Linked DNA regions of Homo sapiens. The gene in region 1 interacts genetically with each later gene. Each region holds a gene or a part of one and is shown on either strand. Other genes may lie near its edges. The genes, in order: UPF3A and FUS.

Region 1 (15,382 bases):
AGATGGAGGCGAAGACAAGAGAGCTCATTGGTCTGTTTTGCTCATTTCTTCTCTTTTCTTTATTGAGAGATTTACTCGTAGAGGATATACGTTTTTTCTCTTTTTCTTGACTGTGATAACAAGTTGAAACTTGTTACAGGCTTGACAGAAATGTAGAGTGATTTCCAGTTTTGACAAAAGAATGGCAAGATGGCAGCATGGGAAAATATTTCTGAGCGTTGGTTGATGGAGAGCACGTGATTTTTTTAGTTAAGATCATTTTAAGTTATGATGCTTCCGAATGAGCAGTGCAGAAGACACATGAATGGTCTGTTCCTGAGCGTCAGGGAAGGCATGTTGTGTCACATAGTTGAAGTCAGTGGTCACAGACGGATGCCTCAAGAGCCCATAGGAATGAGATGTTTTGCTTGCGGTGAGGTCATCTTGCTGCTTCAACACAAATGCCAGGCTCCCCGAGCCAGGCCAACTTGTGGATAAGCCCAGCCAGAGCACAGAATCGAGTTTAAATCCAGCCTTCCACCCCATGCCCACAAGTGGTGTACTTTAGAAATAGTTACTTCCCAGTAGCACCAACATACTTCCCAGTAGCACCAACATGAAAATCAGGCAAACTGTTGTTGTTTAGTCCCAGACACACCTGGTAGTGTTTCTCTTCTCTGTGGATCTCCTTTCCTCAAAGCCCTGGTTCTTCACCTCTCATCTCTCCCGCCCAGGCTGTGCCCTGCCCACCCATCAAGATGGATGTACTTTGGGAGGCCAGGGTGGGCGGATCACAAGGTCAGGACTTCGAGATCAGCCTGGCCGACATGGTGAAACCCCATCTCTACTAAAGATACAAAAAATTAGCAGGGCATGGTGGTGCGTGCCTATAGTTCCAGCTACTGAGGAGGCTGAGGCAGGAGAATCGCTTGAACCCAGAAGGCGGAGGTTGCAGTGAGCTGAGATCGCACCACTGCACTCCAGCCTGGTGACAGAGCGAGACTCCATCTCAAAAAACCAATAAAATTGATGTGACATGACAGCCACATTGTTTATCATTTATTTTCCTGTCTGTCTCCCACCACATAAACTCCCTTCTTGTTTTGTCTCCCCAGTGGAACTATATTTTCATCTTCATGGTTGTAGAAAAGTTCAGGAATTTAGTAGATGTTGATTGAATTAATAAAAAAAGATTAATATTACTGAAATAGTCCGTTCACTTTCTTCATTTATCTAGTAATAAAGCTTTTTTTCCCCCCACTCTGTTGCCCAGGCTGGAGTGCGGTGGCACAATCTCGGCTCACTGCAACCTCTGCCTTCCCAGTTCAGGCCATTCTTCTGCCTCAGCCTCCTGAGTAGCTGGGATTACAGGCACCCGCCATCATGCCCAGCTAATTTTTATATTTTTGTGGAGATGGGTTTCACCATGTTGGCCAGGCTGGTCTTGAACTCCTGATCTCAGATGATCCGCCTGCCTCAGCCTCCCAAAGTACTGGGATTACAGGCGTGAGCCACCACACCTAGCCGTAATAAGGCTTTTGATCACTAAAGTAAACAAAATATGCTGAGGCTGCATGCTGCCTGGGCACTGACTCTGGGCCTCAGCATGGGGCCAAGTGGTAAGCAGGTTGCACAAGGCCTCTGCCTACCATCGGGATGACAGGTTGGAAGCAGGAGCAGGAATAGTCCAACCAGGGCACCTCAGTGTGTAATCACTGCCACTGATGTGACAAAGTGGAATATGGGAGGGAAAGAGGTTGGGAGACTCCCTCCAAGATAGTGGTGGAGCTGGAGCTGAGACTGGCTGCGGGAGGGAAAGAGGTCAGGAGATGAGCTGAGCCTGGCCGTGCTGAGCAGTGGAGGAAGGAAGCGCCAGGGGCAGGGCCGGCTGCTGTCGCTTTTCACTGCAGGCGCAGAGTGCAGGCTTGTGGGGTTGGCACACATGGGTGAGGGCAGCGTGGTTGGAGGTTCAGGGCACTGCAAGACATTTAGATTCATTCCAGGGCAACTGGAAGCCACTGGGGGAGTAGCATGGTCTGATTATTTGTCCCCGTCACTTTGGTGGTGTCACATGGGATAGACTGTGGATGCCAAGAGATGAGCGTGTGTTTTGGAGGTGGGCTGGACAGGACCGACAGACGGATAGGGTGTGGGAGGTAAGGGGACAGGAAGAATTAAGACTCCAGTGCTTGGCTTGAACAGATGGGTGGATTGTGGCACCATTATACACAAGGGAACATGAGGGTAGGACAGTATTGGGGGCAAAGTCGAGATTTCACTTAAGAACTTGATAAATTGAAGAAGAGCTAGAAGCAGCAAATTAGACGTTATTACAGGCCTCATCTCCCTGCCCCTCCCATTTCCATCTCACTTTGTTTTAAATGTCCCCTTGCAAAGGATCGGTCACTTTAGGGCTGTTTTGAGACATACCTTTTTGGGGCAGACACGTGGCTCCTGCCGGGGTGGGGAGAGGGGGGCATGTCCTGGCACCTCCCCGAGAGTCTGCTGCACAGCCAATGCTTCACAAAAGTTGGCTGAATGAATGAATGAATGTGGCTTAGAACCCACCATCCCTGATGGGAGCGATTAATTCATTCCAGGACTTGGCTGTAGAGTCTTCCTTGTTTCTGTGATTGCTGTTTCTATGTATGAAAAATTGAAACTTGGCCGGGTGCGGTGGCTCACACCTGTAATCCCAGCATTTTAGGAGGCTGAGGCGGGCAGATCATGAGGTCAAGAGATTGAGACCTTTCTGGCCAACATGGTGAAACCCCGTTTTTACTAAAAATACAAAAATTAGCTGGGCGTGGTAGCATGCGCCTGTAGTCCCAGCTACTTGGGAGGCTGAGGCAGGAGAATCGCTTGAACTCGGCAGGCGGAGGTTACAGTGAGCCAAGACCACGCCACTGCACTCCAGCCTGGCGACAAAGTAAGACTCCATCTCAAAAAAAAAAAAAAAAAAAATTTTAGGCAATTCATGGCAGATTACCTTTTTCTTTTCTAAGCTTTTGGCCTCCAGTGGATTCTTCTGCACAGGTCTGAGAAGCAAGTGTTAAATGGAAATACTAATAAGCTGTTTCTGGCAAGGACTCTGGAGTTGTTGAGTTAGTCTGGTGCATCGGCCTTTAGCATCGGCCTTTAGAGCAGACAGGCCTGGGTTCAGCTCTGAGACTTCTGTTTACTTGTGTTCTGTTGCATGGTTGTGCGTATTCTGTCTGATAAATAACATACTTTTATGATGTGTAGAACACTTTCTTATTCAGGGTCTAACGTACTTTGCCCGTGATCCCTGTGGGTGATAGGGCAGACATTTTATAGGAAGAGGAAGGTGGGCAAGCGGAGTCTGGGGTCAGCCTCCCCACACATCCAGGTGGTCTCGCCCGGCTCCTGGCTGACAAGTTCAGGCTTTCCACAGAGCAGAGCAGAACCCTGGCTGATTTGAGATAATTTGCCCATTACAAAGAGCTGACCATTTACCTGAGCCAGTGTGCTGTACTCACCCTGAGCCAGAGTTCATGGTCAGCCCAGGGACCCCTGGGGGAGTGTTCTCTGTGGCAACTGTGTCTGCCACGAAATGTGGCATTTGTACCTGCATCAGCTCTTCCCTACAACCACTGTGCCTGGGGCAGGGCTCCTGGGACAATCGGCTCTTCCCTACAACCACAGACTGTCCCTGGGGAAGGGCTTCTGGGACAGGTGCCATTTCATCTATGATGTCAGGGTGTCAGGGGTTCTCAGTTCCAAGTGATGGATCCCTGGCCAGGGCTTCTCCTATGATTCCTGATTCATTCCTGGTCCTCAGAATTCCAGAGATGATGTGTCAGTTTTCAGGTACATCCAGGGATTCTTCCCAGCCCTGTTTAGTCTGAGATCTTACAGACCCACAGAGTAGACCCCGTCTTCCCCCTTCCCATTTGTGTCCTTGTGTTGGTGGGATGTGGGGCCTGTCCATGTCAGCGCAAGTCCCTCTGAGGTGGGGCCTGTGGGGCCTCTAGCTTGCCTGGGCACCCACATCCAGGTCAGATCTGAGAGGTCGGGCATGAAAGCGAAGGACCAAGATAGAGTCTGTAGAAATGTTCATTCCCTAGTAGTTGGTGCCTTTTCTGCAATCAGCAGCGCCATATGGAGTCATTTTCTTTTTCTTTTCTTTTTTTTCTTTTTTTTTTTTTTTTGAGGCAGAGTTTCGCTGTTGTTGCCCAGGCTGGAGTGCAGTGGCGCAATCTCGGCTCACTGCAACCTCCTCCTCCCGTGTTCAAGTAGTTTTCCTGCCTCAGCCTCCCGAGTAGCTGGGATTATAGGCGCGTGCCATCACGCCCGGCTAATTTTGTATTTTTTCAGTAGAGACGGGGTTTCCTTAGGTTGGTCAGGCTGGTCTCGAATTCCCAATCTAAGGTGATCTGCCCGCCTTGGCCTCCCAAAGTGCTGAGATTACATGTGTGAGCCACCACGCCCGGCCCATGTGGAGTCATTTTCTAAACTACAATCCAGAGTTGTATGTCTTATCATTGGGATTTTATGGAGTATATATTGTAAGACATTACAAGAATCCATGTTATTTTAAAACTGTTGCTTGGAGAACGGAAAACGAAAAAGTTCTCAGAATATGCGATGTATCAAAATAAATATATGTTATTTAATGATTTAAGGCACCTACAAAAATATCATCTTGGAATATTTTAAGCCTCCCTTAAGAATCAGGAATTAGATGTCTACTATGTATGAAATTGTTGATACTTTCAAATTACTTGACCTGACAGTAATGGAATAAAAACTCCCCTGGAGACAGTGTGTAAATTTAAAAAGTAATGATATGGTTCCCGTATTTATTTTAAAGATTACATTCAAAACAAGTATTTAAAATACATCTTTCTTTAGGAGTTAAATACAATATTACAATTTTTGTGTTTTAGCTAGAAGAACCACACCTCTTTTGGAATATATTAAAAATAGAAAATTAGAAAAGCAGGTAGGTCTGGCCTTTACCTGATGAACACCCTCCCTGCTTCTGCCATTCTCATCCAGGCAGTTTATACACACGCTCTTCCATGTCTTTAGAGAATTCGAGAAGAGAAGCGAGAAGAACGGAGGAGGAGAGAGTTAGAAAAGAAACGTTTGCGGGAAGAGGAAAAAAGAAGAAGAAGAGAAGAAGAAAGATGCAAAAAAAAAGAGACAGATAAACAGAAGAAAATTGCAGAGAAAGAAGTAAGGATTAAGGTAATTCTGAGGAAACATTTCCTTTTTCCAAAAATAGCTCTGCTATAGTAATTACACTTTTTACATATCTTAGTTCTTTAGAATTTTGAAAACATTCTGAATTAATCTAATATTGTGTTGTTATTTTTTTCCATCTTTTCCATCTTTCTTTCCATCCTACAGCAGTGGTTATCACAGTGCGTCCTGAGCCCTGGGAGTCCTCAGGCTGCTGTTGGGTGCCTGTCCTCCTGGGTGTGCAGTGGGGAGCACACCCCACAGGAGCCCCACGCTGGCACACGTTGGGCTGCTGCTGACGCTCTTTTTTTTTTTTTTTTTTTTAAACTTTCCAACTTTCATTTTCGGCTCAAGGCGTACATGTGCAGGTGTGTTACATGTTCATTGTCAGCTCAACGCGTACACGTGCAGGTGTGTTACGTGTTCATTTTCGACTCAAGGCGTACACGTGCAGATGTGTCACATGTTCATTTTCAGCTCAAGGCGTACACGTGCAGGTGTGTTACGTGTTCATTTTCGACTCAAGGCGTACACGTGCAGATGTGTCACATGTTCATTTTCGGCTCAAGGCGTACACGTGCAGGTGTGTTACGTGTTCATTTTCGGCTCAAGGCTTACACGTGCAGGTGTGCCACATGTTCATTTTCGGTTCAAGGCGTACACGTGCAGGTGTGTTACGTGTTCATTTTCGGCTCAAGGCGTACACGTGCAGGTGTGCCACATGTTTATTTTCGGTTCAAGGCGTACACGTGCAGGTGTGTTACGTGTTCATTTTCGGCTCAAGGCGTACACGTGCAGGTGTGTTACGTGTTCATTTTCGGTTCAAGGCGTACACGTGCAGGTGTGTTACGTGTTCATTTTCGGCTCAAGGCGTACACGTGCAGGTGTGTCACATGGGTAAATCAAGTGTCACTGGGGTTTGGTGTGCAGATAATTTTGTTGCCCAGGTAATCAGCACAGTACCTGATGTTTTTCAGTCTTCACCCTCCTCCCATTCTCCACCCTCTACATTTTCCTTTAAAAAAAAGTTTTCCTCCCAGCACTTTGGGAGGCTGAGGCGGGCAGATCACGAGGTCAGGAGTTCGAGATCACCCTGACTAACATGGTGAAACCCTGTCTCTACTAAAAATACAAAAATTAGCCAGGTGTGGTGGCGGACGCCTTAATCCCAGCTACTCAGGAGGCTGAGGCAGGAGAATCGCTTGAACCCAGGGAGCAGAGGTTGCAGTGAGCCGAGATCGCGCCATTGCACTCCAGCCTGGGCGACAGAGCAAGACTCCCTCTCAAAAAAAAAAAAAAAAAAAAAAAATTTCCTGGCCGGGTGGGGTGGCTGACACCTATAATCTCAGCACTTTGGGAGACCGAGGCAGGCGGATTACTTGAGTTCAGGAGTTTGAGACCAGCTTGGCCAATATGGGGAAACCCCATCTCTACTAAAAACACAAAAATGAGCCGGACGTGGTGGCGTGTGCCTGGAATCCCAGCTACTCAGGAGGCTGAGGCAGGAGAATCACTTGAACCCAGGAGGCGGAGGTTGCAGCGAGCCGGGATCGCGCCACTGCACTCCAGCCTGGGCAACAGAGCAAGACTCTGTCTTAAAAAAAAAAAAGTTTCCCTGATTAAAAAATACACATTTGAAAACCACTGGTTTTGCCTTTCTGTGTGAAGGCTGACTCAGAACCGGGTTTTATCATTTCTTTGGCAGTAGCACTAATGAGTTTCTGTATTTCTTGCTGAGTTTTTTCTGTGACTGATACATTCATTTATGAGGGTGGTTTAATACATAGAGGGAATTTTTCTCTGTGTGAAATGTGTTGGCCAGAATTGGGACCAGCCATTATCTCCTCAGTACTAAACCTAGATTTGAACCTAAGGTATCACTCATTACTTATTATTTATTGAATACCTTATATTCAATAATATTGTACAATATGAGGAAAAAAATGAAATGTCAGGACTTGGGGAAAGAAGATAGCTTAGGAAAGGGTGGGGAAGAGATCATTGAACCATAGATTTGTTTCTGATATGGTCAGCAGTCAAAAACAGAAAAGTTGGCTGGGTATGATGGCTCATTCCTATAATCTCAGGACTTTGGGAGACCAGGGCAGGTGGATTGCTCTAGCCCAGGAGGTCAAGACCAGCCTGGGCAACAGAGAGAGACCCTGTTTCTGTTTTTTGTAGAGATGGGGTTCCCACTATATTGCCCAGGCTGGTCTCGTACTCTTGGACTCAAGTGATCTTCCTGCCTCACCCTCCCAAAGTTTGGGGATTACAGGCGTGAGCCACCATGCCTGGCCTGGTTTAGCTTTTAATAAGTATCTGTGCTCAGTATGGGGGTCTTTCACTTCTAAATCATGTGGAAAATTGAAATTCTTTTAATGCCTGAAAAATGGAATCTGTGGAGAAATGCAAAAGAAGGTGTATCAACAGCTTAAAGAAAGACAGATGGCTCATGGCTATTTTGCTATTTTTTTGTTTGGTTTTGGTGGGGGGGGGGTTTGAGACAGGGTCTCAATGTGTCACCCAGGCTGGAGTGTAGTGGCACAGTCACAGCTCACTGCAGCCTCTACCTCCCAGGCTCAAGTGATCCTCCCGCCTCAGCCTCCCATTACAGGGGTGCAACATCATACCTGAATAGCTAATTTAAAAAAAAATTTGTAGAAGTGGGGGTCTCACTATGTTGTCCAGGCTGGTCTTGAACTCCTGGGCTGAAGTGATCCTCCCACTGCTGGGGTTAGAGGCATGAGCCACCGTGCGTAGCACTCATGGCTATTCTTAATAAAGAGAAATATGGTTTGGGAGGCCGAGGCGGGCGTATCACGAGGTCAGGAGATCGAGACCATCCTGGCTAACACAGTGAAACCCCATGTCTACTAAAAATACAAAAAAATAGCTGGGCGTGGTGGCACACGCCTGTAGTCCCAGCTACTCAGGAGGCTGAGGCAGGAGAATCGCTTGAACCTGGGAGGCAGAGGTTGCAGTGAGCTGAGATCACGCCACTGCACTCCAGCCTGGGCGACAGAGCGAGACTCCGTCTCAAAAAGGCTGGACCGCGGTGGCTCACACCTGTAATCCTGGCACTTTGGGAGGCCGAGGTGGGCGGATCATTAGGTCAGGAGATCGAGACCATCCTGGCTAACACGGTGAAACCCTATCTCTACTAAAAATACAAAAAATTAGCTGGGCGTGGTGGCGGGAGCCTGTAGTCCCAGCTACTTGGAAGGCTGAGGCAGGAGAATGGCATGAACCCGGGAGGCGGAGCTTGCAGTGAGCCAAGATTGCGCCACTGCACTCCAGCCTGGGCGACAGAGCAAGACTCCGTCTCAAAAAAAAAAAAAAAAAGAAAAGAAATACGGCACACAGAACAGCTCAGCTGTTTAATGTTCCTCTGAGGATGCTAAGCAGTGAGCTTATGTGTGGCCACATGGGTGAACACACACAGGCGAGGGCTGGGAGGGAGCACAGCTGCCCATGCGCTCCGCTTGGCCTCCGGAAGCCTTGCAGGGCGTGGCAGAGCTGGCCTGCTCCCCAGCTCGTCTCCAGCAGCTCTGGCCTGCTCCCCAGCTCGTCTCCAGCGGCTCTGGCGTGCTCCCCAGCTCGTCTCCAGCGGCTCTGGCGTGCTCCCCAGCTCGTCTCCAGCGGCTCTGGCCTGCTGGTTTCTCATGAATGCACCAGCGGATTCCACCTCAGGACTCCGCACGTTTCCCTCCACAGGGACTTCCCCAGATGTGCCCGTGGCTCCTTCTTGGCATCTGGTCTTAGTTCCCGTCTTGGCTCTGCAGAGAGCCCTCCTGGGCCCTCCTCTTCCTGCGTCTCTGATGCTTTACTCTCCCTTCATGTCTGTTCGTAGCTTTTGATGCTACCTGAGGTTATCTTATTCCTTTGTTTCCTTTTTCATATTTTTGCCACTGTTCACAGCATTCCCCCTTGACCACCGTTGCCTCAGGTGGTGCATCAGGCGCAAGTTCCTTCGAGGCAGGGGCACCTCTTGTCTCATTCACAGCCATTCCCTAGTGCCTAGCACAGGGTCTTAGGCCCTGGTTCCTGCACACAGCTCCTCAGACCTCGGGAATCTGCAGTAATATGAGTGTCTTATATGCCAATGAGAGGACTAGGGGCTGGGGGCCCCAGGCAGCTTCAGGATGGGGACTAGTTGGCCAGAAAGCCAAGGCAGGACTAGAGGGTTGGGACTTTCAGTCCCACCCTAGCCTCCGAGAGGGCAGAGGGCCTAGAGAGAGGTCACCGGTGGCCAGTGACTTAATCAGTCACACCTACATAATGAAACCTTAATAATGCCTAAAGACAGGGCTTCCAGGGGCCAGGCACAGTGGCTCACGCCTGTAATCCCAGCTCTTTGGGGGGCCAAGGCAGGTGGATCCCGAGGTCAGGAGTTTGAGACCAGCCTGGCTAATATGGTGAAACCCCGTCTCTACTAAAAATACAAAAATTAGCCAGGCATGGTGGCGCATGCCTGTAGTCCCAGTTACTCAGGAGGCTGAGGCAGAAGAATCGCTTGAACCCAGGAGGCGAAGGTACAGTGAGCCGAGATCGCGTCACTGCAGTCTAGCTTGGGTGACAGAGCAAGACTCCATCTCAAAAAAAATAAAAAAAATAGACGGGCCTTCCGGGTTGGTGAGCACATCAAGGTGCTGGGAGGGTTACTGCATGGAAGCTCCAAGTACCACTACACCATACCCCATACCCACCTTGTGCATTTTTTCCGTTTGGCTGTTCTGGGTTGTATCCTTTATGATTAGCCAATAATCGAGAAAACAGTGCCTTTCTGAGTTCTGTGAGCCATTTCAGCAACTTACCAAATCTGAGGAGAGGCCATCGGGAACCCCTGAATTTATTGCTGACTGGTCAGAAGTACCGGTGACACACTGGGACTTGGAACTGTCGTCTGAAAGGGGGGCAGTCTTGTGGGACTGAGCCCTTGACCCGTGGGTTCTGGTGCTAACTCCAGGTCGATGATCTCAGAGTTGAGTTGAATGTGGAGCACGCAGCTGGTGTCGGAGGGGTGGTATTGAAAAAGACGTGCAGTGTCAGAAATGTAAGAACAGTTCCTAGGCACACAGAATATTTGTTGAATGGGTGGATGGAGATTTGCACTTCCTATGGTTCACATTTATTACAGACATGTTACTGTTGCAATTTTTATAAAAGATGGGCAGTTACCAGAAAGGAAATGTTTAAGTTCCCAGATTCCACATAGGCAGAATAAGAGGATGTTCACAGCTGACATGGGGCCCACGCTTGATGAGAAGCGGCTTCCAATGCTCCACCTTGCATGATGCGTTGTGTTCCCAAGTGAACACGTGTGATTGAATGCATCTGTGTATGGTCTTGCTATGCTGCAATTATGAGTGAGAACAGAATTCTCAGATGTACACCTTCCATTTCTGTTCTACAAATGATCTGTCTGTGGTGCTTCCGTTTTTTTTTTTTTTCTCCCTTTTCTCAAGTTAGCTGAGGTGCTTTAGTTTCAAAAACTATACAGAGAGCAGGGAGAAAGGCCAGGGGCATACAGGGCAGATGAAATATGTCGTGGCGACTTGTTCATTAATTCTGTTTCAGGAAAGAGAATAATCAGTGTTTTGAAAACTATAAACTATTCTAAAAATCATCAGTAGGAAGCAGCCTTTTAAAAATTTTTTTTTCCTTATTACAAAACTAATACTTGTCTATGTCAGGAAAACTAGACCCTATAGATGAAAGGAAATAAAGTCATTTCAGTTCTGCCATCTAGAAATAATCACTATTGGCCGGGCATGGTGGCTCATGCCTGTAATCCCAGCACTTTGGGAGGCCAACGCTGGGGGATCACAGGTCAGGAGTTCAAGACCAGCCTGGCCAACATGATGAAATCCCATCTCTACTAAAAATACAAAAATTAGCCAGGCACGGTGGCAGGAGCCTGTAATCCCAGCTACTTGAGAGGCTGAGGCAGGAGAATTGCTTGAACCAGGGTGGCAGAGGTTGCAGTTAGCTGAGATCAAGCCACTGCACCCCAGCCTGGGTGACAGAGTGAGACGTCGTCTCAAAAAAAACAACAAACAAAAACTACAAAAGTTAGCCAGGTGTGGTGGCACGCCCCTGTAGTCCTGGCTATTCAGGAGGCTGAGGCAGTAGAGTCGCTTGAACCCAGGAGACGGAGGTTGCAGTGAGCCGAGACTGCACCACTGCACTCCAACCTGGACGACAGAGCGAGACTCCATCTCAAAAAAGGAAATAATCACTATTAATACAGTGCTGCAGAGCCCTTTAGGTGGTGGTGTGTGTGTGAACATAAATAGAAGTGGGGGCTGGGCACGGTGGCTCACGCCCATAATCCCAGCACTTTGGGAGGCCAGGGTGGGTGGATTGCCTGAGGTCAGGGGTTTGAGATCAGCCTGGCCGACATACTGAAACCCCGTCTCTACTAAAAATACAAAAAATTAGCTGAGCGTGGTGGTGGGCGCCTGTAATCCCAGCTACTTGGGAGGCTGAGACAGGAGAATCACTTGAACCCGGGAGGAGGAGGTTGCAGTGAGCCAAGATCGTGCCATTGCACTCCAGCCTGGGCAACAAGAGTGAAACTCCATCTCAAAAAAAAAAAAAAAAATTAGACGGGTATGGTGGCGCATGCCTGTCGTCCCAGCTACTCAGGAGGTGGAGGCAGGAGAATCACTTGAACCTTGGAGGCGGAGGCTGCAGTGAGCCGGGAGTGCGCCACGGCACTTCAGCCTGGGCGACAGAGCGAGACTCTGTCTCAAAAGAGAAAAGTGTAAGTGAGATTGTGGTGCATGTTCTGTTTTTTAGCCCTTTATTCATTACGTGAACATCTTTGCATCACATTAACCTACCTTACTTTTCATGACTAAAAAATATTTCATTCACTGAATGTTCCACCACGTATTAAACCAAAAACCTCATTTTTGGACCTTTAGCTTTAATTCTTTGCTGTGCAAACATTTGGCTTCAATATTGGGGTATATTTGTAATTATTTATTTAACAGCTTCTTTTAAAATATGCTCTCAAGGTGATACTTTACTAACATTGTAATTTCTCAGCTTCTTAAGAAACCAGAAAAGGGAGAGGAACCAACCACAGAGAAACCAAAAGAAAGAGGAGAGGAGATTGATACTGGAGGTGGCAAGCAGGAATCCTGTGCCCCCGGTGCAGTCGTAAAAGCCAGGCCCATGGAAGGCTCGCTGGAGGAGCCCCAGGAGACGTGAGCGTGCTTTCATTGTTATGACCACGTCAGCTCCCAGTCATGGTGACGTAGGCTTTGTCAGTATGAGTATGCCTATTTCACACTGTTCTTGGAATCCAAGACTTTCCAGGGTGTGCGAGTACACGTTAGCCTTCATTTCCCATCAGCATGGCAGGAACGTAGTGAACTCGTCTTGTCTGCAGTCTCAAGTCTGTCTTCAGATCGGGAGTTTCTTCCTGTTGTTTGCTTTGCTTTTGCCTCCATGTCCTCCTTTTACTCCTGAGCCGCCTCCTGGATTCCTGCTGTTGCATGTCAGGTCTTCAGGATCTGTCTTCCCAGTCTTTCTTTTTGTTTTTTGTTTTTTATTTTTCTCTGTGTTTGTGATATCTTGCCCTTTGCTCTTTTATCCCCCTTGCAATTTATCTACAGAATTGCATATTTGGGAACCCCCTCTTTTAGGTCTGGCAGATCTTTTGTGATAGAGAAACAGAATTTTAAGTGCTGTGATCCTTTGGTTGAAGCTGTCCCTGGCTCCTCTGGCTGTGGATCTTGACCAGCAGCTTTGGCTGTGCACTGTGGGTCCTCCCTTTTTCTTTTCCTTTGCTGCATATGACAGTGCAGCTCTATGGAGGGAGCTCATCTGCGAAAGGGACAGACACAGCATTATCTGCCCGGTGGGCCAGAGAGACCAGCCAGATGCCAGTCAGGAGGGATCCTGTCCCTCTTGCTCCTGGCATCCACCATCCTCAGGGCCCCAGGCACCTGGGCTTACCTTCCCCTCCGGGACTCCTGCCCACTCACTGCCTCTCGCCACCCACAGTCTCCTGGTGCCCAGGGCCACTTGGCCCACAGGGGATGATGGACGTGGATTTTAGGTGGGAAGACTAATGCGATTAGGCTGCCGGCTTCCCAGAGCCATAGTCGTAGGTGTGATTTCTCACTGCCTTTCGTTCAGAGTTGATGAAGTATTTTTTCTACTTCTTGGGAGTTTTGGTTTATTGCTTTGTTTATAAAATTTATATATGATTATCAAATCCATGATTGTGAAGCACTGTGATGATGTTACCGGTGTTGTTACTGTGACAGTTGATGACACAGCAGGACCTACTGCCACGTGTCTGCTGTGAATTCATACTTGGTTACAGATCCTTATGGTCCCCAACAGCCCTGGCAAATGAGCGAAGCAGCCATTTATTTACTATTCATTTAATATTCTGATAAATGCATAAAGATAATTAATCTGCCATTATTAAATGTCAGTTAATTTTACTCTGCACATCATGATGGATGTGCACCTGGGCTCCCAGGACAGCCACTGGACCACTTTAGTCTCAGTCATTTTATCTGTAGAAAAGAAGGTTTATTTTATTTTGTTTTATTATTTTATTTTATTTTAATTTTATTTTTGAGACAAAGTCTCGCCCTGTCGCCCAGGCTGGAGTGCAGTGGCACGATCTCGGCTCACTGCAACCTCCGCCTCCCAGGTTTAAGCAATTCTGCTTCAGCCTCCCAAGTAGCTGGGATTACAGGCACCCGCCACCATGCCTGGCTAATTTTTGTTTTTTTTTTGTTTTTTTGAAACGGAGTTTTCCTCTTGCCCAGGTTGGAGTGCAATGGTGCGATCTCAGCTCACCACAACCTCTGCCTCCTGGGTTCGTGCAATTCTCCTGCCTCAGCCTCCTGAGTAGCTGGAATTACAGGCATGCCCCTCCATGCCTGGCTAATTTTGTATTTTAAGTAGAGACAGGGTTTCTCCATGTTGGTCAGGCTGGTCTCGAACTCCTGATTTTAGGAGATCTGCCTGCCTTGGTCTCCCAAAGTGCTGGGATTACAGGTGTGAGCCGCTGTGCCTGGCCTAATTTTTGTATTTGTAGTAGAGACAGGATTTCATCATGTTGGCCAGGCTGCTCTCAATCTCCTGACCTCAAATGATCTGCCTGCCCCTGGCGTCCCAGAGTGCTGGGATTACAGGCACATGCCACCACACCTGGCTAATTTTTGTATTTTCAGTAGAGAGGGGGCTTCACCATGTTGACCAGGCTGGTCTCCAACTCCTGGCCTCAGGTGATCCCACCCACCTTGGCGTCCCAAAGTGCTGGGATTTACAGGCGTGAGACACCATGCCTGGTCAAAAGAAGGTATTTACTTTGGAGGGTTATTGAGAATTAGAAAATATGTATAAAAAGTACCTTAGCATGGCCAGGCACGGTGGCTCACACCTGTAATCCCAGCACTTTGGGAGGCCAAGATGGGCATATCATAAGGTCAGGAGATCGAGACCATCCTAACTAACACAGTGAAACCCCGTCTCTACTAAAAATACACAAAAAATTAGCCGGGCGTGGTCGCGGGCACCTGTAGTCCCAGCTACTCGGGAGGCTGAGGCAGGAGGATGGTGTGAACCCAGGAGGCGGAGCTTTCAGTGAGCTGAGATCCCGCCATTTTACTCCAGCCTGGGCAACAGAGCGAGACTCCATCTCAGAAAAAAAAAAAAAAAGTACCTTAGTATAAGGCATATTGCCTATCTGTCACTCAACTGAAATGACAGATACTATTACTATGATTTATTCCTCTTTGTAGTGGTTTTTATCAACGCCTGCTGTGTGCCCATCGCAGTGCAGCCTCAGCAGTGCAGCGCTGAGCACTTCGCATGGGTCCCTGTTGTCTGGGAACCTGTGGTCTAGAAAGGAGGGTGGGCAGCCAACCGGCGGTTTACTGCAGTTGCTGATCATTTGTGTTGAATCATAGGTCACACAGCGGCAGTGATAAAGAGCACAGGGATGTGGAGAGATCTCAAGAACAAGAATCTGAAGCACAAAGATACCATGTGGATGACGGCAGGAGGCACAGAGCTCACCACGAGCCTGAACGGCTTTCCAGAAGGAGTGAGGATGAGCAGAGATGGGGGAAAGGACCTGGCCAAGACAGAGGGAAGAAGGGGAGCCAGGACAGCGGGGCTCCGGGGGAGGCCATGGAGAGACTGGGAAGAGCGCAGAGGT
Region 2 (16,285 bases), on another chromosome or scaffold:
GCCTCCAAAAGTGCTGGGATTACAGGTGTGAGCCACTGCGCCTGGCCAAATGTGTGTAATTTTTTTTTAGCTGTCCCACAGAGAAAGAACTCTTCTCAGTAGTTTTACATGTATCTTCCTGGAAATATTTGCAAATTAATCTGAAAAAAAGTATACATACATATTTGGCATATTAGGGTTTAAATCACCTTGCAGGGTCAAACATAAACAAGTTTCTTCTTCTTTTTTTTTTCTTTGAAACAGAGTCTCTCTCTGTCGCCCAGGCTGAAGTGGCGCAATCACGACTCACTGCAGCCTTGAACTCCTGGGCTTAAATGATCCTCCCTCCTCAGCCTCCCCAGTAGCTGGGACTACCGGCATGTACCACCATGCCTGGCTAATTTTTTTTTTTTTTTTGAGACGGAGTTTCAGTCTTATTGTCCAGGCTGGAGTGCAATGGCGCGATCTTGGCTCACCGCAACCTCTGCCTCCTGGGTTCAAGTGATTCCCCTGCCTCAGTCACCCAAGTAGCTGGGATTACAGGCATGGGCCCCCATGACTGGTAAATTTTGTATTTTTTTTAATAGAGACGGGGTTTCTCCATGTTGGTTAGGCTGGTCTCCAACTCCCGACCTCAGGTGATCCTCCCGCCTCGGCCTTCCAAAGTGATGGGATTACAGGCGTGAGCCACCACGCCCGGCCTAATTTTTTAAAGTTTTTGTAGAAACTGGGTCTGGCTATGTTGCCCAGGCTGATCTCGAACTCCTGGGCTCAAGTGATCTTCCAACCTTGGCCTCCCAGAGTGCTGGGATTACAGGTGTGAGCCACTGAGCTTGGCCTTAAGCATAAAGAAGTTTCTTCGTTCTTTTGCGTATTTGTTCAGAAGCCCCTGTACTGATACCCTCTCTCACTCTTCTCCCTTTTCCTATTTAGAGCTAGAGAATCTGTAGCCCAGAGTCCTTGAAAAAGGCAAATGATATGGAATTGTTAACAGATCCTTTTACTTTACACTTTTTTTTTTGAGACAGAATTTCACTCTTTTTGCCCAAGCTGGAGTGCAATGGCGCGATCTAGGCTCACTGCAACTTCCGCCTCCCGGGTTCAAGCGATTCTCCTGACTCAGCCCCCCGAGTAGCTGGGATCACAGGCGCCTGCCACCATGCCCAGCTAACATTTTGTATTTTTAGTAGAGACAGGATTTTGCTATGTTGGCCAGGCTGGTCTCAAACTCCTGACCTCAGGTGATCTGCTTGCCTCGGCATGCCAAAGTGCTGGGAATACAGCGTGAGCCACCATGCCCGGCCTAAGTTACACTTTTGGTTTGTTTGTTTGAGACAGTGTCTCTGTTGCCTAGGCTGGAGTGCAGTGGCGCCATCTCGGTTCACTGCAACCTCTGCCTCCCGGGTTCAAGCGATTCTCCCACCTCAGCCTCCTGAGTAGCTGGGACTACAGGCACACGCCACTACGCCCGGCTAATTTTTGTATTTTTAGTAGAGACAGGAGTTCACCATGTTAGTCAGGCTGGTCTCGAACTCCTGACCTCAGGTGATCCGCCTGCCTTGGCCTCCTAAAGTGCTGGGATTACAGGCATGAGCCACAGCGCCTGGCACACTTTTGTTTTTGTCTTTGAGAAACAGTTTTGTTCTGTGGCCCAGGTTGGAGTACAGTGGTTCAATCATAGCTCACTACAGCCTTGACCTCCTGGGCTCAAGTGATATCCCCCACCATTTCAGCCTCCCAAAGCTCTGGGATGACAGGTGTCAGCCACTGTGCCTGGCCACACTGCATTTTTGCAAACCAGGTACCAGGACGCTCAATTTGTTTCCCTGGGACCTTTAACCTGTTTGGAAATAGACCTGGCACAATGATTGGTCAATTTCCCATCTATCACTGTGACTATTGCATACCTTGCCCCAGGCCCTTTTCCTGCCTCCAGGAGGACTTTCTGCAGTTTTCCCTCAGACCCAGCACTGTGTTGCCCTTTTCATTTTTTTTTTTTTTTTTTTTTAGTGTTTAACCTCGTTTTTAAGTTCATACTAAGGTACAAATGGCTTCTTCCTTCTTTGTTTTTGCTTTTTTTTTTTTTTATTGATCATTCTTGGGTGTTTCTCACAGAGGGGGATTTGGCAGGCCGCCATCCCACCTAGGAAGTGAGGAGCGCCTCTTCCCCGCCGCCATCCCATCTAGGAAGTGAGGAGCGTCTCTGCCTGGCCGCCCATCGTCTGAGATGTGGGGAGCGCCTCTGCCCCGCCGCCCCGTCTGGGAGGTGAGGAGCGTCTCTGCCCGGCCGCCCCTTCTGAGAAGTGAGGAGACCCTCCGCCAGGCAACCGCCCCGTCTGAGAAGTGAGGAGCCCCTCCGCCCGGCTGCCACCCCGTCTGGGAAGTGAGGAGCGTCTCCGCCCGGCAGCCACCCCGTCCGGGAGGGAGGTGGGGGTCAGCCCCCCGCCCGGCCAGCCGCCCCGTCCGGGAGGGAGGTGGGGGGGGTCAGTCCCCCGCCCGGCCAGCCGCCCCGTCCGGGAGGTGAGGGGCACCTCTGCCCGGCCGCCCCTACTGGGAAGTGAGGAGCCCCTCTGCCCGGCCACCACCCCGTCTGGGAGGTGTACCCAACAGCTCGTTGAGAACGGGCCATGATGACAGTGGCGGTTTTGTGGAATAGAAAAGGGGGAAAGGTGGGGAAAAGATTGAGAAATCGGATGGTTGCTGTGTCTGTGTAGAAAGAAGTAGACATGGGAGACTTTTCATTTTGTTCTGTACTAAGAAAGATTCTTCTGCCTTGGGATCCTGTTGATCTGTGACCTTACCCCCAACCCTGTGCTCTCTGAAACATGTGCTGTGTCCACTCAGGGTTAAATGGATTAAGGGCGGTGCAAGATGTGCTTTGTTAAACAGATGCTTGAAGGCAGCATGCTCGTTAAGAGTCATCACCACTCCCTAATCTCAAGTACCCAGGGACACAAACACTCTGCCTAGGAAAACCAGAGACCTTTGTTCACTTGTTTATCTGCTGACCTTCCCTCCACTATTGTCCTGTGTTGCTCTTTTCTAGTTGGTCCAAGCAGGTCTTTTCTTAGCACAGGCCAATTATCTGCCCAGCATTTACTTTCCCAGTCTGTGTACCATGACAACCTCTCCTAGAGACACAAAATCTGAGTGGGCCCCATGCAGACAGGGGCACTTCCTGTCCTGGGCACTGCCCAAGGAGATAATAAAGCAATTATTTCTTGCTTGAAGCAGTACATCTTGAAGGACGAGTGAGAGAGAAAAGGTCATTTATTCATGCCTACTATGTTCTAGGCCCAGTTAAGGGTATTTGCAGATGGAAATGTCATTTAATATTCCCAGTAGAAGTTGCTTTTTTTGAGACAGTTCTTGCTCTGTCTCCCAGGCTGGAGTGCAGTGGTGCAATCTCCACTCATTGCAACCTCTGCCTCCAGGGCTTAAGAGATCCTCCTACCTCAGCCTCCTGAGTAGCTGGGACCACAGGCGTGTACCACCAAGCCTGGCGAATTTTTGTATTTTTTGTAGAGACTGGTTTCGCCATGTTCAAGACCAGCCTGGGGTCTTGAACTCTTGGACTCAAGAAATCCACATGCTTTTGCCTCCCAAATTGCTGTGATTAGAGGTGTGAGCAATCCCAAGCCTGTTGTTTTGAGTGATGTGAAATAGCAGGTTGTCTCATACCTCAGTGCCTCTGCTTAGGAATGTGACCGTTTCGTCCTGCATGAAATCCTCTGTTCAGAGCTGAAATGGGGCTGAGTAAAATTCAGCTCCTGCTCTCCTCCCCAAGTCTTCGGCCTTGGGGGGCAGAGTTGGGCGGGGGGTGGGTTTCTGCCTGGAGGAAGGGATGCCTTTTCCTAATTTGCACAAAGATGTGCAGCAGGCTAGAGGTGGGGCCTGGGTCTGGCCCCAGCCATCTCTCACCATCCCTCCACGCTGTTCCCCAGGCCAGAGTGCTCCTGAGGGGAGGGCCTTGCCTGCTCTTCCTCCCTTGCCCTTCTACACGCCTGCTCTTCCTCCCTTGCCCTTCTACAGGGACCCAGCTAGGGCAGTGGCACACGTCTGTGGTCCCAGCGCTTTGGGAGGCTGAGGTGGGAGAACTGCTTGAGGCCAGGAGTTCGAGGTTAGAGTGAGCTATGATTGCACCATTGCACTCAAGAAGCCTGGGCAACAGAACGAGGTCCTGTCTCTAAAATATAAATACATACAAGAACCCAGCTAAAGTGCCTGGCCAGGACAGGCTCTGGGTCAAGCTTGCTCTCTTCTGTTCGTACAGTTTTTGTACTGAGAAATGCTTCATTCGTTCAGTTGAAATGTCAACTCCTCGCTGGGCACAGTTGCTCATGCCTGTAATACCAGCACTTTGGGAGGTTGAGGCAGGAGGATTGCTTGAGCCCAGGAGTTTAAGACCAGCCTGGGCAATTGTAGGGACCAGCCCCACAGGGTCGGTGGGCTTCTCCCTGTGTGCGGTGACCAGAGAGTGTAGAAATAAAAGACACAAGACTAAGAGATAGAAGAAAAGACAGCTGGGCCCGGCGGACCACTACGACGAATGCGTGGAGACCGGTAGTGGCCCCGAATGTCTAGCTGTGCTGTTATTTATTGGATACAAAGCAAAAGGGGCAGGGTAAAGAGTGTGAGTCATCTCCAATGATAGGTAAGGTCTTGTGTCCACTGGAAAGGGGGCCCTTCCTTCCCTGCCTGGCAGCCGAGGCAGAGAGAGAGAGAAGACAAAGAGAAAGACAGCTTACACCATTATTTCTGCATATCAGAGACTTTTAGTACTTTCACTAATTTACTACTGCTATCTAGAAGGCAGAGCCAGGTGTACAGGATGGAACATGAAGGCAGACTAGGAGCATGACCACTGAAGCACAGCATCACAGGTAGATGGTTAGGCCTCCGGATAACTGCGGGCGAGCCTGACTGATGTCAGGCCCTCCACAGGAGGTGGAGGCGCAGAGTCTTCTCTAAACTCCCCCAGAGAAAAGGAGACTCTTTTTCCCGGTCTGCTAAGCAGCGGGTGTTGTTCCTTGACACTTTTCGCTACTGCTAGACCACGGTCCACTTGGCAATGGGCGTCTTCCCAGACGCTGGGGTCACCGCTAGACCAAGGAGCCCTTCTGGTGGCCCTGTCTGGGCATAACAGAAGGCTCGCACTCTTGTCTTCTGGTCACTTCTCACTGTGTCCCCTCAGCTCCTATCTCTGTATGGCCTGGTTTCTCCTAGGTTATGATTATACAGCGAGGATTATTATAATATTGGAATAATGAGTAATTGCTACAAACTAATGATTAATGATATTCATATATAATCATATCTAAGATCTATATCTGGTATAACTATTCTTGTCTTATATTTTTTTATACTGGAACAGCTCATGTCCTCGGTCTCTTGCCTTGGCGCCTGGGTGGCTTGCCGGCCACAGGCAATGTGATGAGACCCAGTCTCTACAAAAAACAAAAATGCTGGGGCGTGGTGGTGTATGCTGCTGGGGAGGCTGAGACGGGATGATCTTTTGAACCCAAGAGATTGAGGCTGCAGTGAGCAGAGATTGTACCACTGTACTCCAGCCTGGGCGACAGGGCGAGACCCTATCTCAAAAAAAAAAAAAAATAGCTGGGTGCGGTGGGTTACGCCTGAGTCCCAGCACTTTGGGAGGCTGAGGCGGGTGGATCACAAGGTCAGGAGATCGAGACCATCCTGGCTAACACAGTGAAACCCCGTCTCTACTTAAAATACAAAAAAAAAATTAGCCGGGCATGGTGGTGGGCGCCTGTAGTCCCAGCTACTTGGGAGGCTGAGGCAGGAGAATGGCGTGAACCTGGGAGGCGGAGCTTGCAGTGAGCCGAGATTGCACTACTGCAGTCCAGCCTGGGCGACAGAGCGAGGCTCCATCTCAAAAAAAAAAAAAGTCAACTCCTCAGTGAAGGCTGACCCACCCTACTCACTGCAAAAGTAATCACTCTTCCCCTGTGGCAGGTCTTACCCTGTATAATACCCTCCTCAGCTACCATGCTGTGGTGCATTGTAGGAGTCAGTTTGCTTTTAAATTGGTCATTATATGCACATAGTGAAAAATTAAAATATAAAAGGATCTAGGAAAAGTGAATTTCCTTCAATCCTTGACCCCAAGTTCCCCAGATTCCTTCCTCAGAAATAGGCTATGACTTGTTTTTCTTCTTCCAGAGATATTTTATGCATAAGTAAACACATATATATATATATCCCTAACTGTTCTCCTTCTCTTTTTCTTTTTTCTTTTTTTTTTTTGTGACAGGGTCTCACTCTGCTGTTCAGGCTGGAGTACAGTGGCACAGTCATAGCTCACTGCAGCCTTGACCTCTTGGATAGTACCCCACCCCCCTGCCCCAGACTCAGCCTCCCAAGTAGCTGGGACCACAGTCACACACCACCAAACCCAGATCATTTTTAATTTTTTTGTAGAGACAGGGTCTCACTATGTTATTAAATGATCCTCCTGCCTCGGCCTCCCAAAGTGCTGGCATTACAGGAATGAACCACTGAGCCTGGCCCTCTTTCTTTTTTAGAAACCCAAATAGAGGCCGGGCACAGTGGCTCACGCCTGTAATCCCAGCAATTTGGGAGGCTGAGGCGGGTGGATCACGAGGTCAGGACATTGGGACCATCCTGACAAACATGGTGAAACCCTATCTCTACTAAAAATAAAAATACAAAAAAATTAGCTAAGCGTGGTGGCGGGCGCCTGTAGTCCCAGCTACTCTGGAGGCTGAGGCAGGAGAATCGCTTGAACCCGGGAGGCGTAGCTTGCAGTGAGCCGAGATCGTGCCACTGCACTCCAGCCTGGGTGATAGAGCGAGACTACGTCTCAAAAAAAAAAAAAAAACAAAAACCCAAATAGAGGCTGGGCATGGTGGTGCAGGCCTGTAGTCCCAGATGCTGGTAAGGCCAAATTTGGAGGATTGCTTGAACCCAGGAATTTGAGGCTGCAGTGAGCTTTGATTGCACCACTGCACTCCAGCCTGGGTGACAGATTGAGATCCTAACTCAAAAGAAAAAAAAAAGGAGGCCAGGCATGGTGGCTCACGCCTGTAATCCCAGCGCTTGGGAGGCCAAGGCAGGCAGATCATGAGGTCAGGAGTTCGAGATCAGCCTGGCCAACATGGTGAAACCCCATCTCTACTAAACGTACAAAAATTAGTTGGGCGTAGGGGCACGTGCCTATAATCCCAGCTACTCGGGAGCCTGAGGCAGGAGAATTGCTTGAACCTGGGAGGCGGAGGTTGCAGTGAGCCGAGATCGCGCCACTGCACTCCAGCCTGGGTGACAGAGCAAGACTCAATCTCAAAAAAAAAAAAAAAGGCCGCTGTCATCACCACCGAGACCAAGAAGGCCACGAGACTCAGCACCTTCCTCAAGATTTCCTGGGCCAAGGAGCCAGTGCTGGTCTTGTCCTCTGTCATCCGGAGCCTCACTGTAATTCTACCCCCACTTAGTCCCCACACCAAGTACTCCATCATGATCAACGAGGCAAGGCCCTACAACTACCCAGTGCCTGTCTGCAATGATGGGAACATGCCCGATGTGCCCAGCCACCCCCAGGACCCCCAAGGCCCCAGTTTGGAGTGGCTGAAGAAATTGTGAGCACCTCCACTGCCAAAGGAGGACCCTCCCATGGCTCCCACTAGAAATGTGAAAACCAACCTCTCCCTGCTCAAAAAAAAAAGAAAAGAAAAAGAAAAATTGCATTAAATATTTGATCTAGGCCAGGCGCAGTGGCTCATGCCTGTAACTGTAACTCTAGCACTTTGGGAGGCCGAGGCAGGAAGATTGCTTGAGGCCAGGGGTTCAAGACAAAACTGGCCAACAAAATGAGACCTTGTCTTTAAAAAATAAATTCTGGGGCTGGGCGCAGTGGCTCATGCTTGTAACAGCACTTTGGGAGGCCGAGGAGGGGTGGATCACGAGGTCAGGTGTTTGAGACCAGCCTGGCCAACATAGTGAAACCCCGTCTCTACTAAAAAAAAATACAAAAAATTAGCCAGGCGTGGTGGCGGGTGCCTGTAATCCCAGCTACTTGGAGGCTGAGGCAGGAGAATCGCTTGAACCTGGGAGGCAGATATTGCAGTGAGCCGAGATCGCGCCATTGCACTCCAGCCCAGGCAACAGTGCGAGACTCCATCTCAAACAAATATATATAAATATAAATAAATATATATATATATGTAACTTCCTGGCACGATGGCACAGACCTGTAATCCCAGCACTTTGGGAGGCCGAGGCGCGTGGATCAGGAGGTCAGGAATTCAAGACCAGCCTGGCCAAGATGGTGAAACCCTGTTTCTACTAAAAATACAAAAAATTAGCCAGGCGTAATGGTGGGAGCTTGTAATCCCAGATACTCGGGAGGCTGAGGCAGAGAACTGCAAACTCCGGAGGCGGAGGTTGCAGTGAGCTGAGATTGTGCCACTGCACTCCAGCCTGGGTGACAGAGGGAGACTCTGTCTCAAAAAAACAAACAAAAAAATTAAATAAATAAATTAAAACTAACTAACTAAATAAATATCTGGATATCTGAGCTGGGTGCAGTGGCTCATGCCTCTAATCCCAGCACTTGGGAAAGCAAGGCAGGCAGATCATTTGAGGTCAGGAGTTCGAGACCAGCCTGGCCAACATAGGGAAACCTCATCTCTACTAAAAAAATTAGTTGGGTGTGGTGGTGCACATCTGTAATCCCAGGTACTCAGGAGGCTGAGGCAGGAGAATTGCTGGAACCTGGGAAGTAGAGGTTGCAGTCAGCTGAGATTGCAGCACTGCTCTCCAGCCTGGGTGACAGAGTGAGACTCTGTCTCAAAAAAAAATCAATATCTGATATACGTGTTTATTTTTTTATTGAGATGGAGTCTTGCTCTGTCGCCCAGGCTGGAGTGCAATGGCACAATCTCTGCTCACCGCAACCTCTGCCTCCCTGGCTCAAGCAATTCTCCTGCCTCAACCTCCCGAGTAGCTGGGACTACAGATGCGCGCCACCATGCCCGGCCAATTTCTGTATCTCTAGTAGAGATGGGGTTTCACCAGGTCGGTCAGGCTGGTCTCGAACTCCTGACCTCATGATCTGCCCACCTCAGCCTCCCAAAGTGCTGGGATTACAGGTGTGAGCGAACGCATCTGGCCCAATATCTGATATACATGTTAATTGAAACTGGGTGTGGTGGTCACACCTTTAATCACAGCACTTTGGGAGGATTCCCTTGAGCCTAGGAGTTCAAGACCAGCCTGGGCAACATAGCAAGACCCTGTCTCAAAAAAGAAAAATTTAACATTGACTTTCCTGTCAGAGATAGGAAGTAAATAAGACATTTATGGTGAACTTAAAGCACATATGGCAGCTAAAGGTGACAGTGTCTCACTCCAGCTGACCCTTGCCCTATGGAAGTGGGCCTGGAATGGCCCACTATTTTTAGTGTTGGCAACTAGTTAAAAAAATTAAAACATTCGAGGCAGGTGGATCACTTGAGATCAGGAGTTCGAGAACAGCCTGGGCAATATGGTGAAACCCCGTCTCTACTAAAAATAGGAAAATTAGCTGGACATGGTGATGCATGCCTGTAATCTCAGCTACTCGGGAGGCTGCAGCACAAGAATTGCTTGAACCCGGGAGGCAGAGGTTGCAGTGAGCTGAGATCACGTCACTGCACTCCAGCCTGGGTGACAGAGTGAGACTCCATCTCAAAAAAAAAAAAAAAAGAAAGAAAGAAATGGCCATTTGATTTAGTCTTTCAGAGTCACATATTTTTTTTTTTTTGAGGCCGAGTCTCATCTGCCACCATGCCCAGCCCAGAGTCACAGCTGGAGCCTGAACTCTGCCTCAGTGTCTTCCCCACTTGTGCCTTTGTCTTCGCGGTTCTGCCTATTATAGCCTTTCCTCCCTTGCTGCTTGGCAAACTTCTACTTATCCAGTAAGCCTTGGCTTCAGGGTTACCATCTCTCTTTAGTGTTCTGTGGTTGTCCACCTGATGGATGACTTACTCTGCTGGCAGGGTTTCCAGTCTTTGATTCCATGTGATGGCACTTACTACACTCAAGTACACTTTGTGGTCTGTGTGTCTCACCCACATTCACCCACTGGCTGGTCCTGTGGTTTAGGAACTGAGCTTTTTTTTATCCATATCCATCCAGTCGGCCCCATGATTGGAACATACTATGCAGTGCTCAGGCAATGTTTGCTGAAGCGCAGGGGTTAAGAGCAGGCTACCTGGCTTGGGAACCCAGCTTTGCCACTTCCTGTGTAGCTTCAGCATAACTTTCCGTCTTTCTTTTTTTTTAGAGACAGAGTCTTGCTCTACTCTATCATCCAGGCTGCAGTGCAGTGGCGCGATCTCGGCTCACTGCAACCTCTGCCTCCGGGGTTCAAGCAATTCTCCTGCCTCAGCCTCCTGAGTAGCTGGGACTACAGGTGCGCGCCACTATGCCTGGCTAATGTTTGTATTTTTAGTAGAGACGGGGTTTCACCATGTTGGTCAGGCTGGTCTCGAACTCCTGACGTTGTGATCTGCCCTCCTTGGCCTCCCAAAGTGCTGGGATTACAGGCGTGAGCCACCGTGCCCGGTCAACTGCCTGTCTTTCTATGCTTATTTCCTCATCTGTAAAATGTCATCCTTAGCAGGGCGTGGTGGCTCACACCTGTAATTCCAGCAATTTGGGAGGCCAAGGCAGATGGATCATCTGAGGCCAGGAGTTCGAGACCAGCCTGGCCAACATGGTGAAACCCCGTCTCTACTAAGAATACAAACATTAGCTGGGTGTGGTGGCGCACACCTGTACTCCCAGCTACTTGGGAGGTTGAAGTTGTAGAATCACTTGAACGCGGGAGGCACATGTTGCAGTGAGCCGAGACGGCGCCCCTGCACTCCAGCCTGGGTGACAGAGTGAGACAGTGTCCCCCCAAAAAAAAAAAAGATAAAATGTCATCCTCACATCAGCCTTTTGTTGTGAAAAATAAAATCAAGAGTTTACTCAGTCAGAACAGGGCCTGACAGTAAGTCTTGTTAAAGTGTTAGCTATTACATATTATAGATGAGCACAATGTATATCATTATTAAATGTCAGCTTTATTATTATTATTTGTTTTGAGACAGTCTTGCTCTGTTGCCCAGGCTGGAGTGCAGTGGCACGTCTTGGCTCACTGCAACTTCCGCCTCCTGGGTTCAAGCGATTCTCCCATCTCAGCTTCCTGAGTAGCTGGGATTACAGATGCGCGGACGACGCCTGGCTAATTTTTGTATTTTTAGTAGAGACGGGGTTTCACCATGTTGGCCAGGCTGGTCTCGAACTCCTGACCTCGTGATCCACACGCCTCGGCCTCCCAAAGTGCTGGTATTACAGGCGTGAGCCACCGCACCCGGTCAGCTTTATTATTAAATGTTAACTTCATCTGCTTTGTACACGAATGCATACCCAGTGCCCAGAACAGTGCCTGGAACATACTAGGTGCTAAATAAATATTTGTGACTTAATGCATGAATAAGGGTGGACTTCCTTTCTTTTGCTCTCACTGGAGAGTTGAACTCTCCTTCCAAAGGCGGTGGGGTGGATATTGGCATATTCAGGGCCTTTAGGGCTGAAGTCAAGGGCTTAGTGGGGCTTAATTTGTGGGCGGGCCCAGGGCATGGCCCTCATTGTTTCTCTAGAAAGACGTGTCCAACCCTCAAAGGACCTTCTGAAATCCCGCTGAAAGGTTAAGTTGGGAAGGAAAACCTGCATGCCTATGTATCAGGAATTAACGTCTTTTGTCTTGTTTTATTCAGTAGTTTCAAATTGCCTTCTCCAGGCAAGGCTGATGAAAGTGCAAGTTGCAAGTTAATTTGAATGTTTCTTTTTGCTTTTGCTCTCACAGGAAGTGAAAAGGCGACCAAACACTCTAGCATTCATGCCACCAAAAAGAGGAGTGTTTTGCAGTTACAAGACCTGGATTCGAATCACGACTCCTCTTAGCTGCCCTGTAATCAGGCACAATTACTTGGGTCTCTGAGTCTCACTTTCCTTATCTAGAAAACGGAGGTATCTTTACTTCCTTCGTAAGACTGATGACAAGGAAATTATCTGTGCATTTTGAAACCACTTAAGCCTTGTACACGTTTTATTTCTGGGATCGCCCTGGTAGGGCTTCAGAAAAATAAAAAGGAGGTCCCTGAGAAAAGGCTGGGTACCGTACATCTGAGGTCAACCCTCTCTGGTCCCAAGGATGGCCTGGGCTGTTCCGCCCCGTGGCTCCCCAGGGGCAAAGCCATGAGGATCCGGGTGAGAGCCCAGTGCTGGACGAGCCCGGGGCCCAGGGGTCCCGGCCGAAATCCCTGCTGTCTTTCAGGTCAAACGTCATAATCCCCGAACCCCAGAAAGGCCGAAAGGCAAGGCAACCCTGAAAGACGACGAAGTCAACCTCAGGGCGCAGGAGAGGGAGGGCCAGTGTGCTGCCGACGAGGGAGGCTGGAGCCGCGGGGACGAGGCGCCCCATACAGCGGCAAGAGGGTGGAGGGCAGGAGCTCGCCATCCTGGGTGAAAGCGGGGCCCAGCGAAGGGGCCCGGCCACAGGAATCTCGGTTCCACCCCGCTACTCCCGGCTGTGACTCCAGTTTCGTCCCCAGCCGCCGGGACCGCCCCCTCGCCCCGCCCCCAGCGGGCACTCAGGCCGTACCACTGTGCCTTCATGGGGGTGGAGATAGATCGTGGGCTAGTCCTGCCGAGGAGAGAGGGGTTCTTCCTCAAAAAATATGATTATGTATAGTATTCGCATGATTCTAGTTAACTTGTTTCCCTTCTGCCTGCTCGGACCCTCTACCTGCCCTACGAAGGGGGCGGAGTGCGTTCCTGCCTCCCCCTGCTCTTCCGCGTTTGGTGCGCGCCTGCGCGGTGCGTAGGCGGCGGAGCGTACTTAAGCTTCGACGCAGGAGGCGGGGCTGCTCAGTCCTCCAGGCGTCGGTACTCAGCGGTGTTGGAACTTCGTTGCTTGCTTGCCTGTGCGCGCGTGCGCGGACATGGCCTCAAACGGTAGGTAAGGGCGCGAGGCGACGGCGGCGGCGCACCCGGCCGAGGCCTCCCAGCTGGGCTTTTCGTTTTCAGTGGGACCGGGGCGGCGATCCCGTGTGGGATTTTTTGGCGCCCCTGTGGCGGGAAGCCGCGGAGAAGAGTAACTGGAGGAGGCTGGTGTCGCCATTTTGTTTCGCTCCTCTGGCCCTCGCGCGCGGGGCGGGAAGTCTTTTCTTTGCAGTCCGTTTGCTTGGGGTGGGCGTTGGGAGGGACGCTTCTTAGGGGTTTGAAGCGTCAGGTGAGGGTGGAAAACGCCCATTCTCCGTGGCCTCGCCTCCCCCAACTCCCGGCCCCGCGCTCGAGCCCGCTTTGTCGCAGTGCTGCATCCGGGCACTCGCGGCGCGCACGCGCTCTGCGGGCCCCTCCCCCTTCGCGGCGCGGGTACCCCTTCCCCGCCTCGTGTTGGTTCAGCTTTCTGTCGCGAGACCCTTCGCGGAAGACTCGGCGGCGCGCGTCCGGTGTGAGCCTTGTCCCTCAGTGGTCCTTCGCGAATGGGCGGGATCGCTCCGTTCCCGCCTGGGTTGCCACGCGGCTGGGGGCGGAGGCTCGGGATCGGGGCCGCCCTCTAGCTTAACGGTTTGGCGGCGGTGGTCAGGGTTCGACCAACGGACTTGGGGACGGCCCGAGAGTTTTTCCCGCCTAAATTTCTTTCTTTTTTTTTTTGGAGACACGGTCTTCCTCTGTCGCCCAGGCTGGAGTGCAGTGGTGCGATCTCAGATCACTGCAACGTCCACCTCCTGGGTTCAAGTGATTCTTCTGCCTCAGCCTCCTGAGTAGTTGGGATTATAGGCGCCCGCCACCACAGCCCGGCTAATTTTTGTGTTTCTTAGTAGGGGCGGGGTTTCACCATGTTGGTCAGGCTGGTCTCGAACTGCTGACCTCAGGTGATCCGCCCGCCTGGGCCTCCCGAAGTGTCGGGATTACAGACGTAAGCCAACCACGCCTGGTCTAAATTTCTTTTTTCTGAGATAGGGACGGAGAAGAACGGCCGCCCGAGGCCACACCCTCTCCTGGTCCTCTTTCCCTTTTCCTGCGGGGGAAGCGCCGCGTTTCCTGTGCTGGGAGGATGAGTTGATCTTGTTCGTGTATCTTAAGTGGGGCTTTTCAAAAGCGCTTTTGTTGCTTTTTGTTCGCTGGGGGAAGGCAGGGTAGGTGAGAAAACGGAACCATCTGGAGTCCCAGGGCTGGGGACTCGAGTACCTGTTGACTTTCGCCTCCTAAGGCGAGCAGTTGCATGATCTCTGTCATTTGGGGTCCAAGGGCTCTTTTGATTCTCTGGCTTTGCACTAAAAAGCCCACTTCATCTCCGGGATTGGTCAAAGAGTGAAGAATGGCCTTTTTTGAGACTTTCTTATTCTGTGGGTCTGGGCTGAGAGAGCAGAGGCCACAATCTGAACACTGTTCGAATTCAAACCTGTGCCACTTTGGTAGTTCTGCGACGTTGGGAGAGTTAGTCTCTTGACTCCTGGCGATAATGGCTTTCTCATAGAGTGGATGAAACGAATGCGCGATGTTTTAGAGCAATCACTGACATGAATTGGGCTTGCAGAAAATTGTGGATGTCCACCAAGACCTTGGTTTTTCCAATGGTTAAGGCTTCTGGGACTCTGTAGAAACTTGCATTTTCTTCACTTTTTCTTTATTGTAAGAACACTTGGCTGATAACGCCAGTTTGTTCCTCTTCTCAACCAGTGTCTCATGGAGGAATTTTATGCCCTTTGTTGCAACATGGTCCTATTTTTATTTTTTTTTTTGAGATGGAGTCTTGCTCTGTTGCCAGGCTGGAGTGCAATGGCTCACTGCAACCTCTGCCTCCCGGGTTCAAGCGATTCTCCTGCTTCACCTCCCGAGTAGCTGGGATTACAGGCGTGCGCCACCATGCCCGGCTAATTTTTTGTATTTTTATTAGAGATGGGGCTTCACCATGTTGGTCAGGCCAGTCTCGAATTCCTGACCTCAAGTGATCCACCCACCTCGGCCTCCCAAACTGCTGGGATTACAGGCATGATCCACCGTGCCTGGCCTACGTGGTCCTTTTTATTCATCAGTGCTTGAGTTAAGGAATTTAGCTTTAATTCAACTCTTTCAGAGTGGCAGCTGAAGATAATGTGATTGTATTTTTCTTTTGCAGATTATACCCAACAAGCAACCCAAAGGTGAGTGCTATTTTTGGGCTTCCAGAGTTTGTAGAGGGCAAGGGTGGTCACGCCATGTTTTCTGATCACGCTGGTTTTCCTTTTATTTAGCTATGGGGCCTACCCCACCCAGCCCGGGCAGGGCTATTCCCAGCAGAGCAGTCAGCCCTACGGACAGCAGAGTTACAGTGGTTATAGCCAGTCCACGGACACTTCAGGCTATGGCCAGAGCAGCTATTCTTCTTATGGCCAGAGCCAGAACAGTGAGTCTTTCTCAGCGGGTCACCTCTTCCTACTCTTTCTGAATATTGCTTTTCTTTTTCTTGTTTTTTGGAGACGGAGTCTGGTCCTGTTGCCCAGGCTGGAGTGCAGTGGTGCTGTCTCAGCTCACTGCAACATCAGCCTACCGGGTTCAAACGATTCTCCTGCCTCAGCCTCCTGAGTAGCTGGGATTACAGGTACCTGCTACCACGCCTGGCTAATTTTGTGTTTTTAGTAGAGATGGGGTTTCACCGTGTTGGACAGGCTGGTCTGGAACTCCTGACCTCCTGCCTGCCTTGACCTGCCAAAGTGCTGGGATTACAGGCGTCAGCCACAATGCCCTGAATGTTGCTTTTCTTAAACCTGAGCAGCACTGAGATGTTGAAACTGTTCCATATTTCTTTTCCGTGAAACAGTGTATAAGTCTTAAAACTTTTTGGGATCTGAGTCCTTTACAGGGCATTGTGGCACACCTGTAGTCCCAGCTACTGAGGAGGCTGAGGCGGGAGGATCCCTTGAATTCAGGAGTTTGGGGCTGCAGTGAGCTATGATGGTGCCTGTGAACAGCCACTGCATTCCAGCCTGGGCAGTGTGTTGAGGCCCCATCTCAAAAACATAAAAAAAAAAACAAAAAACAAAAATGTTTATTGGTTTGTGATTCTGTTTCCATTTATTTTCTTTGGCTTTTAATTTTTTTGACTCTTCTTATTTTCCATCAGCATGAAAGAGAGCATATTTTCTAAAGGAAGAACCAGTTTTAGGCCAATTCTGAAATGGAGAAAATGGTTTTGTTTGAAAATGTATGAAATCATGTGATACATAAGGAGGTGGGATTTGCCCCAAGG

What was found.
Region 2: of UPF3A (region 1) and FUS, extra expression of one rescues a mutant of the other (dosage rescue), as found in Homo sapiens cells (one study listed by BioGRID).

What each region holds. Positions count from the first base shown.
Region 1 is NC_000013.11:114,286,600-114,301,981, forward strand, and holds part of UPF3A (regulator of nonsense transcripts 3A), read left to right. Parts: coding exon 1-30; intron 31-139; coding exon of another isoform or gene 140-156; exon of another isoform or gene 157-713; coding exon of another isoform or gene 714-937; exon of another isoform or gene 938-1,187; intron 1,188-4,889; coding exon 4,890-4,945; intron 4,946-5,001; coding exon of another isoform or gene 5,002-5,034; coding exon 5,035-5,193; intron 5,194-5,199; exon of another isoform or gene 5,200-5,985; intron 5,986-6,071; exon of another isoform or gene 6,072-7,122; intron 7,123-8,751; coding exon of another isoform or gene 8,752-8,853; exon of another isoform or gene 8,854-9,509; intron 9,510-12,240; coding exon 12,241-12,401; intron 12,402-15,131; coding exon 15,132-15,382. UniProt on the Homo sapiens protein: Involved in nonsense-mediated decay (NMD) of mRNAs containing premature stop codons by associating with the nuclear exon junction complex (EJC) and serving as link between the EJC core and NMD machinery.
Region 2 is NC_000016.10:31,167,223-31,183,507, forward strand, and holds the start of FUS (RNA-binding protein FUS), read left to right. Parts: upstream 1-12,916; 5' UTR 12,917-12,992; coding exon 12,993-13,005; intron 13,006-15,175; coding exon 15,176-15,200; intron 15,201-15,290; coding exon 15,291-15,442; intron 15,443-16,285. UniProt on the Homo sapiens protein: DNA/RNA-binding protein that plays a role in various cellular processes such as transcription regulation, RNA splicing, RNA transport, DNA repair and damage response. Binds to ssRNA containing the consensus sequence 5'-AGGUAA-3'.